Linked DNA regions of Homo sapiens. The protein of the gene in region 3 purifies or fractionates together with the protein of the main gene of each other region. This does not show direct contact. Each region holds a gene or a part of one and is shown on either strand. Other genes may lie near its edges. The genes, in order: PLBD1, CEP295 and SPICE1.

What was found.
Region 1: the proteins of SPICE1 (region 3) and PLBD1 purify together in Homo sapiens (affinity purification with mass spectrometry; 2 studies listed by BioGRID and IntAct, with this or other methods). This does not show direct contact.
Region 2: the proteins of SPICE1 (region 3) and CEP295 purify together in Homo sapiens (affinity purification with mass spectrometry; 2 studies listed by BioGRID and IntAct, with this or other methods). This does not show direct contact.

The regions. Positions count from the first base shown.
Region 1 is NC_000012.12:14,565,990-14,569,738, forward strand, and holds the start of PLBD1 (phospholipase B-like 1 precursor), read right to left. Parts: upstream 1,895-3,749; 5' UTR 1,708-1,894; coding exon 1,593-1,707; intron 1-1,592. UniProt on the Homo sapiens protein: In view of the small size of the putative binding pocket, it has been proposed that it may act as an amidase or a peptidase.
Region 2 is NC_000011.10:93,659,661-93,663,409, forward strand, and holds the start of CEP295 (centrosomal protein of 295 kDa), read left to right. Parts: upstream 1-2,021; 5' UTR 2,022-2,114; intron 2,115-3,749. UniProt on the Homo sapiens protein: Centriole-enriched microtubule-binding protein involved in centriole biogenesis.
Region 3 is NC_000003.12:113,513,156-113,516,904, forward strand, and holds the start of SPICE1 (spindle and centriole-associated protein 1), read right to left. Parts: upstream 2,002-3,749; 5' UTR 1,742-2,001; exon of another isoform or gene 1,503-1,741; intron 1-1,502.

The DNA.
Region 1 (3,749 bases), on a different chromosome or scaffold from region 3:
AATAAATAGTGCTCCATCTTCAGAAAAACAACGCCTGTCTCACTCCTCAGGCTGCCCCCTCCACCTACAAAAACACTTAATCTCACTCGTCCAAAAAAACAGAAAAGGAATAAAGATTTTAGCCAGCATTCCAAACACAAAAGCTACCTCCACTTTTGGGACCCTCCCCAGCCTCCCCCAGGTACCTCTGAATGAGCTGTCTCCCTAGACTAGAAGTAGACACCAAGGCCACCTCCATAGTTTAGGCAAAGAACACAGAAAATCACGAGTCAGGAGCCTGTGGGTACATCTGATCCCACAGACTGGAAAGATTTAAGATTGAAGAGTGATAACTAAGCAAGTCTCAAAAACGAAGGCTCTTGATGATGGAAGGTAGTGTAATAAGAATCAGTACACATATTTAGGAAGGGGCATCCTCCCCCAAGCCCCACCCTACTCTTGTACAAGGTCAGCACAGAAAAGGGGATTATGAAATAAGACAAAATTAATTCTCTTATTATTACTTTAGAATTCTTTCAAGTCCCTTAGTTACAGTTCATAATCTTCACCTCCTTAGGAACGGAAATCATAAATCCAAGGCTTTTTAATTTAATTTAATTTAATTTTGGCAAAGGATGTAGATTTGCATGAATACCTGTAGAGATAAAACCTGTTTTTCCAAGAGGGAAGTAGTTAAGAAAATGCCCTCTGGCATCCCCTAACTCTGTCTTATTTGCTGTGTTATCTTTATGCGAATTACTTCTGATCAATCTCACTTTTCTCATCTGCAGAATGGGGAATATAATCCTATTTAGGATTATATATTAAAAAAAAAAAAAAAAAACTGCCGGGCGCGGTGGCTCATGCCTGTAATCCCAGCACTTTGGGAGGCCGAGGCAGGCGGATCGCCCGAGTCAGGCGTTCGAGACCAGCCTGTCCAACATGGTGAAACCTCGTCTCTACTAATAATGCACAAATTAGCTGGGCATGGTGGCTGACGCCTGTAATCCCAGCTACTTGGGAAGCTGAGGGAGGAGAATCGCTTGAACCCGGGAGGCGGAAGTTGCAGTGAGCCGAGATCACACCATTGCACTCCAGCGTCGCCCACAGAGAGCGACTCTGTCTCAACAACAACAACAAAACCAAAAGGCCCTTAAGCCCACTGCCAGGCACGTATCAAACTGACAATCGTGCAATCGTGATTTTAAGCCAAAGTCAATGTAAATTTTTAAAACACAAAACAAATGGCAAGCCGGAACCATACCTCCCTACAATCTGGATAAATATATTTAGATGCCCATTGGCTGGAGTTTTTAAGACCAGCCCAGGCTCTGTGGGCCAAGAATCGGCGCAGGAGCGAACCGATTTGTTGGCCAAGAATTCGGGCCAAAACTTGTAAAGTTGGCAGACGCACTCGCCATGCCCTTCTCAAGTGCCCTCGCTGCGCAGCCGCAGGGCTGGAGCGAGACCGCCGGCCGGAGGCGCGTTTCTCTGAGTTCACCCAGGAACCAGACGCCCGCTGGACGTCAACTCGGCCGGACGCGGGGCACGGGCGCTAACAGGCTCCTAGGAGCCTCCCCGGGCGCCCCCCGCCCAGGGCGCGCTCTGCTCACCTGCAGGTTTCGGCGGCTCCGCGGTGACTAACAACAGCGGCAGCAGCAGCAGCAGCAGCAGAAGCGGTGGCGGCTGTGGCAGCCCCGGGCGCCCGCCCGGACCGCCGCGGGTCATCGCTCCACGGCCGCGACCTTCCTCTGCGGGATCAGGCGGCCGCGGTGGCCCGCGGTGGCAGAAGTTGCAAGAGAGGCTCCTGGCCTACTCAGGGGCGCCGCCTCTCCGAGGTGGGGCGTCCTCAACTTTCCTCTTTCTTGAGCCCGGCCTGCTCCGGGCTCTGAGGGGCGAGGACGCTTCACGTGGTGGCCTGGGGCCCACCCCGCCTAGGAAAGGCGGATCCTTTACGTCTGACCCTCTAGCAACCCCTGGGCCGGTCTGGGAAAGTTCCCCAGCTGCACTTCTGGGAAATGCAGAGGCTGCCTGCCGCTTTCTTTCGCAGTTTTGCGGCCCAAGGCTTGGGCGAATCAGTTCACATCAACACCCCTACTAGCCTCTCCCTCCGGGGTCGACCATTTATCTCCAGCAGCGGACCAGGCGCCCGGGCCAGGGTGACATGCGCGCCCTGCCTACACGCAGCTCGGATCCTCTGCTGTTTCTGGAGAGGCCTCCACAGGTGCGTTTTCCTCAGCGATTAGCGTACCCCTCATTCCCAGGCTGTTTAACCTAAATCCATGCGCTGTAGCTCAGATTTTTTATCCTTTTTGCTTCCTCTTCGTTGGCTGGAGCCACCACAGGAGAGTGATTCAGACGGGGCTGACACTAGACACACTCCTACGTTTCTGTGGAGTCCCCATTTCTGTGTGGGGTCAGTTAAAAGTGACATTGTGAAGTAGTCAAAAGTTATGCCTTGGGTGATATTGTGAAGTTGGCACCGGGTGCCCTAGGTGACATTGTGAAGTAGGCAAAAGGCATTTCATTCATTCACTCAGCATTGGCTGGGCCCATCTTATACTCCAGATACCAGTGATATAAAGACAGCTAAGAGCATGCCTCACCACAGACAAAAAGAACTAAGCCAGCCGGGCGCCGTGGCTCACGCCTGTAATCCCAGCACTTTGGGAGGCCGAGGCGGGCAGATCACGAGGTCAGGATATCGAGGCCATCCTGGCTAACACGGTGAAACCCCGTCTCTACTAAAAATACAAAAAATTAGTCGGACACGGTGGCGGGCGCCTGTAGTCCAGCTACTTGGGAGGCTGACGCAGGAGAATGGCGTAAACCCGGGAGGCGGAGCTTGCAGTGAGCCGAGATCGCGCCACTCTACTCCAGCCTGGGCGACAGAGCGAGATTCGTCTCAAAAAAAAATAATAATAATAACAATAATAATTTTTTTAAAAAAGAACTAAGCCATATAGATAAACAAGTACACAGAACTTGCCATTCTACTGTGTTAGAGCTATGTTTAAGGTGCAGTGGGAGAGGGGGAAGGAGGGAACAAGCCACCTCTCAGATGGGAACCTCAGCACCCCACTCTTCCTCTTGGCCTTTCTTCTAAGCTTAACCTAGGTGTCAAGGAGAGATGAGAAGAGAGAATAAGCAGTACCTTTCATAACGGGGAAAATGTAATTGTTAGAAAAGATAAAGAACCTAAAAGTTCATCAAATCTCTGTGCAAATTGTGAAACACAAGTCACAATTTTGTGGTCCAGGCACCATGGCTCATGCCTGTAATCCCAACACTTTGGGAGGCCAAGGTGGGAGGATCACCGGAGCCCAAAAGTTCAAGACAAGCCTGTGCCACACAGGGAGACTCCAACTCATTTTTATTTAATTAAAATTAAAGTCACAATTATGTTTAATGGCATTTAATGAATGAAGACATCGAGGACATTGTAAAAGTTGCACATTTTCCTTCAAGTTAGAAAATTAAAATGAAGAAAAATTAAAACGAAGACATCGAGGACATTGTAAAAGTTGCACATTTTCCTTCGTTAGAAAATTTAAATGAAGAAAAATTAAAATGAAGACATCGAGGACATTGTAAAAGTTGCACATTTTCCTTCAAGTTAGAAAATTAAAATGAACCAAAAATGAAAATTTTGGTTGTGTTATGATGGGAAGAGAACCACATTAGGATGTTCAAGGAAGTGGTGCCACCCCAAATATTTGAGTCATATTGCCCTATACCACCCTCCTTCACCTTACTAACCCTTCTGATCC
Region 2 (3,749 bases), on a different chromosome or scaffold from region 3:
AAGAGTATCTCCGTGCCTGTATGGAGGATGCTGAAAAAATGTTTAAAATGAATACAAATATTCTTCAAGATAAATGTGACAGGAAATGGGGAGAGAGGCTGAGAAGAACCCTAATATTTGGGAAGGAAACGTGAATTCTAGTCCTGGTTCACCCTTGACTGAAATGTGCCCTTGGCCAAGTTGCTGAATCTCTCTGTAACTCAGTATCCTGATCTGTAAATCTGAGGTGGAATCACACTATTTCTTCCTGTACCTTCCTTCCTCCTACTCCATCCCTTTAAGTTTTGGTGTTCCTCGGAGTTTGGTTCTTTGCTCATTGCTCTTCTCACTCTGCAAATTCTCCCTAAGTGATCTCATCCATTCCGCTAGCGTTTGTTATTACTCATGTAACAAGGAAATCCCTTTATGCTTAGCCTAGTTCTTTCTGTGGGCTATCTACCGATGTATTCATCTGCTTACAGTACATCACTGGATGTTCTACAGGCACATGAAGTTCAATATACACAGAGCTTGGCTCATCACCCTACCCACTTAACTGCCATTTCTGATTTCTCCCTTTACAATCAAGAATCAACACTGCTACCCAAGCTAGTGGCCTATGAAATCAACTTCACTTTCCCTTTTCTCTCAATCTCACATGCAATTGTTTGTCAAGTACTGCTAATTTTGTGTCCTAAGTTTCTGAAATGCATCCCTTTGTCTAGATATCTCATAAACAGCTCAAATTCAAAATATTCAAAGCTTAACTTATTACTTCTCCCTCCTGGTTCTCTTCATGTGTGTTCCAGGAGGATGTTATCACTATCTACCCAGGTGCTAGGTATCTGGGACTTGGGCATCACCCTTGTTTTCTCCTCTTGTGCCTCCCATAACCAGGTAACCACCAATTCCTGATGTTTGGCTTCCTATTCAATCTACTCACCTCTCTCCATTCTCATTGCTATTATCTTTCACTTTCTGTAGTAGTATACGGCCTTCTGTCTTCACTCTCTCTGACCTTTTCCCCACTGTGCAGCCAGATCTGATCGTGTCAGCAACTTCCCATCCCCACCCCCCATTTTTAATCCTTTGATTCCTGATGTTTAACCCCCATGACCCAGACTGCAAAATCTAGTATAGGCATCATAATCCATCCAGAGTAACATAATGTACTCGGCACATAACAGATACTCAATAGGTATTAACCTGTGCTCACCGCCTGATTATTGGTTATTTACAGCAGATAAATCCGTGAGGTGCTCTCCGTGCGCTGTACCTCTGGAGGCACAGGGTAACATACGGCTCATTGTTGTTATGAGCTGGAGGCCTTAAATGAAAGCTATAAGACGTTAACTGCGCATAATAGTACCAATGAATTCCGTAGTCAGTACAGAAAAGGATGCATATCCCAAGATATCTTCATGATGGGGCCTTAAAACAAAAGTCACCCTCATGGCTCTGCACTTTTTTTTTTTTTTTTTAGACAGGCTTTGGCTCTGTCGCCCAGGCTGGAGTGCAGTACTGGCGGGATCTCGGCTCACTGCAACCTCCACCTCCTGGGTTCAAGCGATTCTCCTGCCTCAGCCTCCCGAGTAGCTGGGATTACAGGCGCCCACCACCACGCACGGCTAATTTTTGCTGTTGTCGTATTTTTTGTAAAGATGAGGTTTCACCATGTTTTTAAAAGGACTTGGTCTTGAACTCATAACCAAAAATACATAACCTCGAACTCTTGGGCTCAAGTGATCCTCCCGCCTTGGCCTCCCAAAGTGCTGGGATTACAGGCGCGAGCCACCGAGCGCGGCCCATACGGGAAAACGTCAAAGCCTGACAGGTGTGACAAATAATGGGCCCCTAGGCAGGCTGGGGCTGGCGCGTGCCTGTGCGCGTGCGCGGGGCGCGGGGTTTTTAACACCGCGCAGCCTTCCCGGCGGCCCCCGAGGAAGGCGGGACAGGGCCTATTCCCGCGGTTTGGTCCGGCCATTGGCGGGCGGTTTGAATGACGGAAGTGACGGCGGCTCGGCGATGGCTCTCCCGCAGGCGCAGAAACGGCTGCTGGGCAGCTGATGGGCAGGAGCTTACCAGGCTGGCTTGCTCTGAGCTGCGGTTACTGTGTCCAGGCCCCGGGTTCTCAGGTGAGTCAGGGATGCACTGGCTTCCCAGTCGCCCCGTAGGAGCATGACTCCCCGAGGCCCAAGAGCTGGGATTGTATTCCGGAGGAATGGGATCCCAGGAAGGCGCCTTGTTGCGAACGCAGGTACGGCTCGCGTTTCTCAGGCTCCGCAGGCCGTGGGCCCTGCCCGCGGTCGGGCTGGCGGCTGTAAGGAGTGTCCGGACCAGACCCGGTAACTCAGTGCGAGAGGCTTTGCGCGCTCTCCTGGGGTCGGGTCGCGCGAGCTTCCCACGCAGCCTCCCCTGTCGCGGAGCTTCCGTGTCGGGGGAGGGGCGCTTCCCCCAGATCACCCGCGGACATGGCCTGCCACCTGGTAGCTGTTAAAAGAGCCTTGCCTGGATCGTTTCATGCAAAGAGCACGCTCTCTTTTGGTGTCTGCCACCTTAATCTCACAGTTATTCAATCCTGTCACAAACTCAACTTTTAAAACAATGGTGAACTTTTGAGTCCTTAATACTTAGAGTGTATTTGAAGACTTCACGCTAAGTCACATAGACGTCAGAACAAACCTTTTGGGGTAGATATTATTATTCCCTTTATACAGTTTAAGAAAACGAAACCAAAGTGACTTCAGTGACTTGGCCAGTATCTTCCTGCTAATAAGTGGCAGTGTTGGGTCTTGAACCCAGATCTTCCAAGTTTAGTGTTAATTTTGTGATTACTATGTACCAGGAGCCATTTAATCCTCAGGACGAAATCTTGCAAGATAAGTAGTATAATCTTCAATATTGGATAGTAATAAAATGTAGAATTTAAAAATCCATATTACTAAGAATAAATAATTAATAAACAAGTAAATGGGGCAGCAGGGAAAACTTCCTTACAGCAGGATTCCGATTGATAATTGTAGAAGGAATAATGGAAATAGAAAATACTATTTGGTAAACACCACAGTAGTTGTTTCAGACAACAGTCATCAATGGATACTAACGTCAATGGGCAAAAGTATGATGAAAAGCATATTTCTGTAGCCTCTACTCTGTCTTCATGAGATATTTATAAAGGAAAAGTAGTAACTACAGAGGAGAAACCTGGTGGACATCATCTTAACCAAGTGACCAAAATTCAGCATCATTTACCTCTTGATAACAATGCACTGAAAAGGTGCCTAATCAATTCTGTGGTGTTCTTGCCAAAAATACATAACCTCAGTTTAATCACATAAGATTAGACAAATCTAAATGGAGGGACATTCAACAAAGTACTTGGCCAGTATTTTCAAAAATGACAGGGTCTTGAAAAGACAGACTGAGAAACTGTCCCAGATTAAGGGGGACATGACAACTTTGACATGAGAATGTAACTCACATATCTTAATCTCCTGCATTCTGAAATCTCCATTTGCACTGAGGCCATGCTTCCCATGGGCTGCTCCTAGCCACTGACAGTGGCAGGCCTGTTCCTGAGAATCTCCCCACGGGTTCTTGCTGAACATTTCTTATACTGCATGGCTGTCTAAGAGGGGTCTACCCATTGTTACTTCCCTCCATTCAGTGTTAGACTTACACTGAAGTCTGAGGCGCTTGTAACTTTTATCAGCTCCCTCCCATTTTCCCTCACACACGCATTTCTCCTAATAAAATATTTGCAGGTTTAC
Region 3 (3,749 bases):
CAGCAACTCGGGAGGCTGAGGCTGGAGGATCGCTTGAGGCAGGAAGCTCAAGACCAGCCTGTGCAACATAGCAAGACCCTGTCTCTAAAAAAAAAATTTTTTTTAATTAGCCAGGAGTGGCAGTGAGTGCCTATAGTTTCAGCTACTCAGGAGGCTGAGGTGGGAGGACTGCTTGAGCCCAGGAATTGGAGGCTGCAGTGAGCTACGATGGCGCCCCTGCACTCCAGCCTAGGTGACAAAGTGAGGCTCTGTCTCTTAAAATAAACAAACAAAAACAAAACAAAAACACCAAATGCTCATTTCTAACTACCTACTATATACATCTCCCAAATATCACAAATACAGTATATCAAAATACAGCTCATCATCATACCCCAAATCTCTACTTGCTGATATATAACTGGTTGACTCGATAAATATGTTCAATTAAGCTGAATTTACAGAATTACAATCCTAGTTGCTCCAATTTAAAACCTCAGCATCACCTCTGTTCCTTATCTCTTAGTGAATCAGATAACAGAATCTATTAACTTTTTCCCTAAAAATCTCTCTTGCCCGCTCTTCTCCATCTCTACTAAAAATATTTTTGTTCAGGCTCTCATTATTCTAATTAGTCTCCCTTTCACTCTTCACTCACTGACTTCATCATCCATCTATTAATGTAACTAATATTTTGAAGCACCATCTAAAAGCGAGGCACCAGATATAACAAGAAAGTAGAATAGTCTATGCCCTTGCAGAGTTAAGAGTTTCTAAGAGGACCGCAATTAAACAAGTATTTACAACAAAAGGGCAGCATGGGAAGTAAATTCTGTGTGCCATGAAAGTACCTAACTAACTCTATGCAGTAAGTAAAAGCTTCTCCTCTCTGTAATACCCCCAAAAATGTTTGCACTGAGAGCTAAAATACGAATAAAAGTTAGAAGCAGGGGAAAGAATATTCCAGGCAAGGGAAAATGCATTTACGAAGAGTTTGAGAAGTTCAGTTCAATTAACAAAGATCTGAGAGGGTGAGAGGTTAAAGGAAGAAAGGCAGACAGCAGATTGTAGTCTTGTGAGCCACAGCAATCTGAACACCTAAGACCATAGGAAACCACTGAAGAATTTTAAAAGGGATAGTTATGACTGGACTTAGTAAATCCACTCTGACTGGTGTGGAAAACTGATCAAAGAGAAACAAGAACTCTTTCCAAACACTGTTGAATCAATCCTACCTAAATACATGGATAGAGAATAGATCTGAACCCTTTACCTACTTCCTCTAGATTCGGATGGCTCCCCACTGTCAAAAGCAATCCAACTCAGCTTGGCATTCAGACCCTCTCCCCCATATGGCCCGGCTGACTTTTCTTTCCAGTGTTCTCTCACATCTCCCGCAAATCCTAAAACCAAGCTCTCGCCTCACACACAGTTGCAACCATTCTTTTCCCTCTGCTTGGAACACTCATTAGGCTCACTCTCTTCTCTACTGGGTTAACTTCCACGGACTCCTCAAAACTCACAGGAGGAGCCTTCTGAGAAGCCCCTCTGACATCCATCGATTTAAATGACGCTCCCGGTCCCAAAGCACCCTGGATAGTTTGCCTCTCTCCTGCTACACGGTGAACTCCCCCAACGCTACAATCGAGCACCCCCAATTACCAGCTCTGTGCAAAAGCTCCCGAAAGCGGTGCGCACGCGCATACTCGAGGTGCTCTGGCGCCACGCACAAACATACCCAGACACGCACCCTGACACGTACTTGCACTCTCAAAACACAGAGCCGCGGCTGCGCTTCCTGAAGTAAGGATTCCCCAACCGGGCGCCTGGATCCCAGGCAACAGACAGATGCCACCACCGTTCTCCCCACCCTTTTGGTAGCCCTGGTCCCTAAGGCTCGTTGGGACTGCGAGCTGCAAGCCTCAGATCCATCATCTCAACCTGCCTTGCAGTCGGTCCCGACTGCCGCCGCCACCGCAGCTAAAACTTCAGGCGCCGGAACCGCGGAGCGCGCCACAGGTTAACCCAGCCAGCGGCTTCCGGGCTGTTGCCTGGGTTACCAGAGCTCCGCCCCACGCCCTTGCGTATATCCGGCGAGCCCAGTGCGCAGGCGCCTCCCAAAGCCTATCTCGGGTCCTGAGTCTAAGGGAGAGAGGTTCCTCTGCAAGGTTCAGGGCAAATTATTAAAGAATAGGTATATAGCAGGCCGGGCGCGGTGGCTGACGCCTGTAATCCCAGCACTTTGGGAGGCCGAGGCAGGCGGATCACGAGGTCAGGAGATCGAGACCATCCTGGCTAACACGGTGAAACCCCGTCTCTACTAAAAATACAAAAAATTACCCGGGCCAGGTGGCGGGCGCCTGTAGTCCCAGCTACTCGGGAGGCTGAGGCAGGAGAATGGCGTGAACCTGGGAGGTGGAGGTTGCAGTGAGCCGACATGGCGCCACTGCAGTCCGGCCTGGGCGAAAGAGCGAGACTCCGTCTCAAAAAAAAAAAAAAAAAAAAAAGAATAGGCATATAGCATTAGCCGGTGCCTCGAGAATTCTCCAAAAGAAAGATGTTGCTCTCCTCACCAGACTTCACATATCACTTAATTTGCTTTCATCTCTATTCATTTGTTTACAAATCTTTAGTAGTGGAATCCCAGCACTTTTGGAGACAGAAGCAGAAGGATTGCTTAAGCTCAGGAGTTTGAGACAAGCATGGGCAAGATGGCGAAACCCCGTCTCTACGAAAAATTAAAAAATTAGCTGGGCGTGGGAACACGCCTGTAGTTCCAGCTACTCAGGAAGCTGAGGTGCGAGGATCGCTTGAGCCAAGGAGGGCAAAGCTGTAGTGAGCCACAGTCATACCACTTCACTCCAGCCTGGACGACAAAGCAAGACCTTGTCTCAAAAAAAAAAAAAAAAGTTGTTTATTACAACCTACAAATGTGCGGGAGAGCTAGGTTCTATGGGGCTAAAAACAGGCAAGGTGGGAAACTTACAGCATATTAACAGACAGTTATCAATGACAAAAACATTAAAATTATGACGAGTGCTAAGAAGGAAGCACTCTAACCAAATACTTAGCTTATTATTATAGTAATATTTGAATTACTCAGGAAAGCTCAGACATGAATAGGCCAGTGGGGAAGGGGAAAGCATTCCTGCAGAGGGAGCTGCATGTGCAAAGATGTGGAAAATGCAAGGGACAGGAAGAGGTCCAGTGTGTCTGAAGTTTAGAGAACAGTGGGAACTTGCTGTGAAGGGGAGGCGCCCTGATAGGCTGGATCCACGACAGTCAGAGCTGCGTGGACCACGTTAAGAACTTTACAAAGCACTTGATTCAAAAACAGAGTTTATTTGCTCTGGTAAGACAATTTCCTCTAGCCCCTTGCTTTCTGCTGTTACAATACACCCATGTGTGGTCTGCAAATACATGCCCAAAACCTTCTAGAGGAAAGGTACTGCCTTTAATAGTTTTCACTCTGATTGAGGAAGTTTGATGTAGATATATTTAATAATCAACAATCATCCACTTGCTTGCATCCTCAACTCCCTGCCCCTCTCTAAATTGCTGTAATCACTTGGCAAAATGACCATATTAGCCATCCCTACTTTACACTTACTAAGTGCTTGCACCCATGCAGCTGAATCTGAAAAAAAACACCCAATCATGCTGACTTTAAATTCATGATTACTGATGTTAAGTAGGACCTTAAAGATGCTTGAACATCTCATTACAGGTCCCTGTTCATTGATTTTCCTACATATTAGTTTTATACCTTC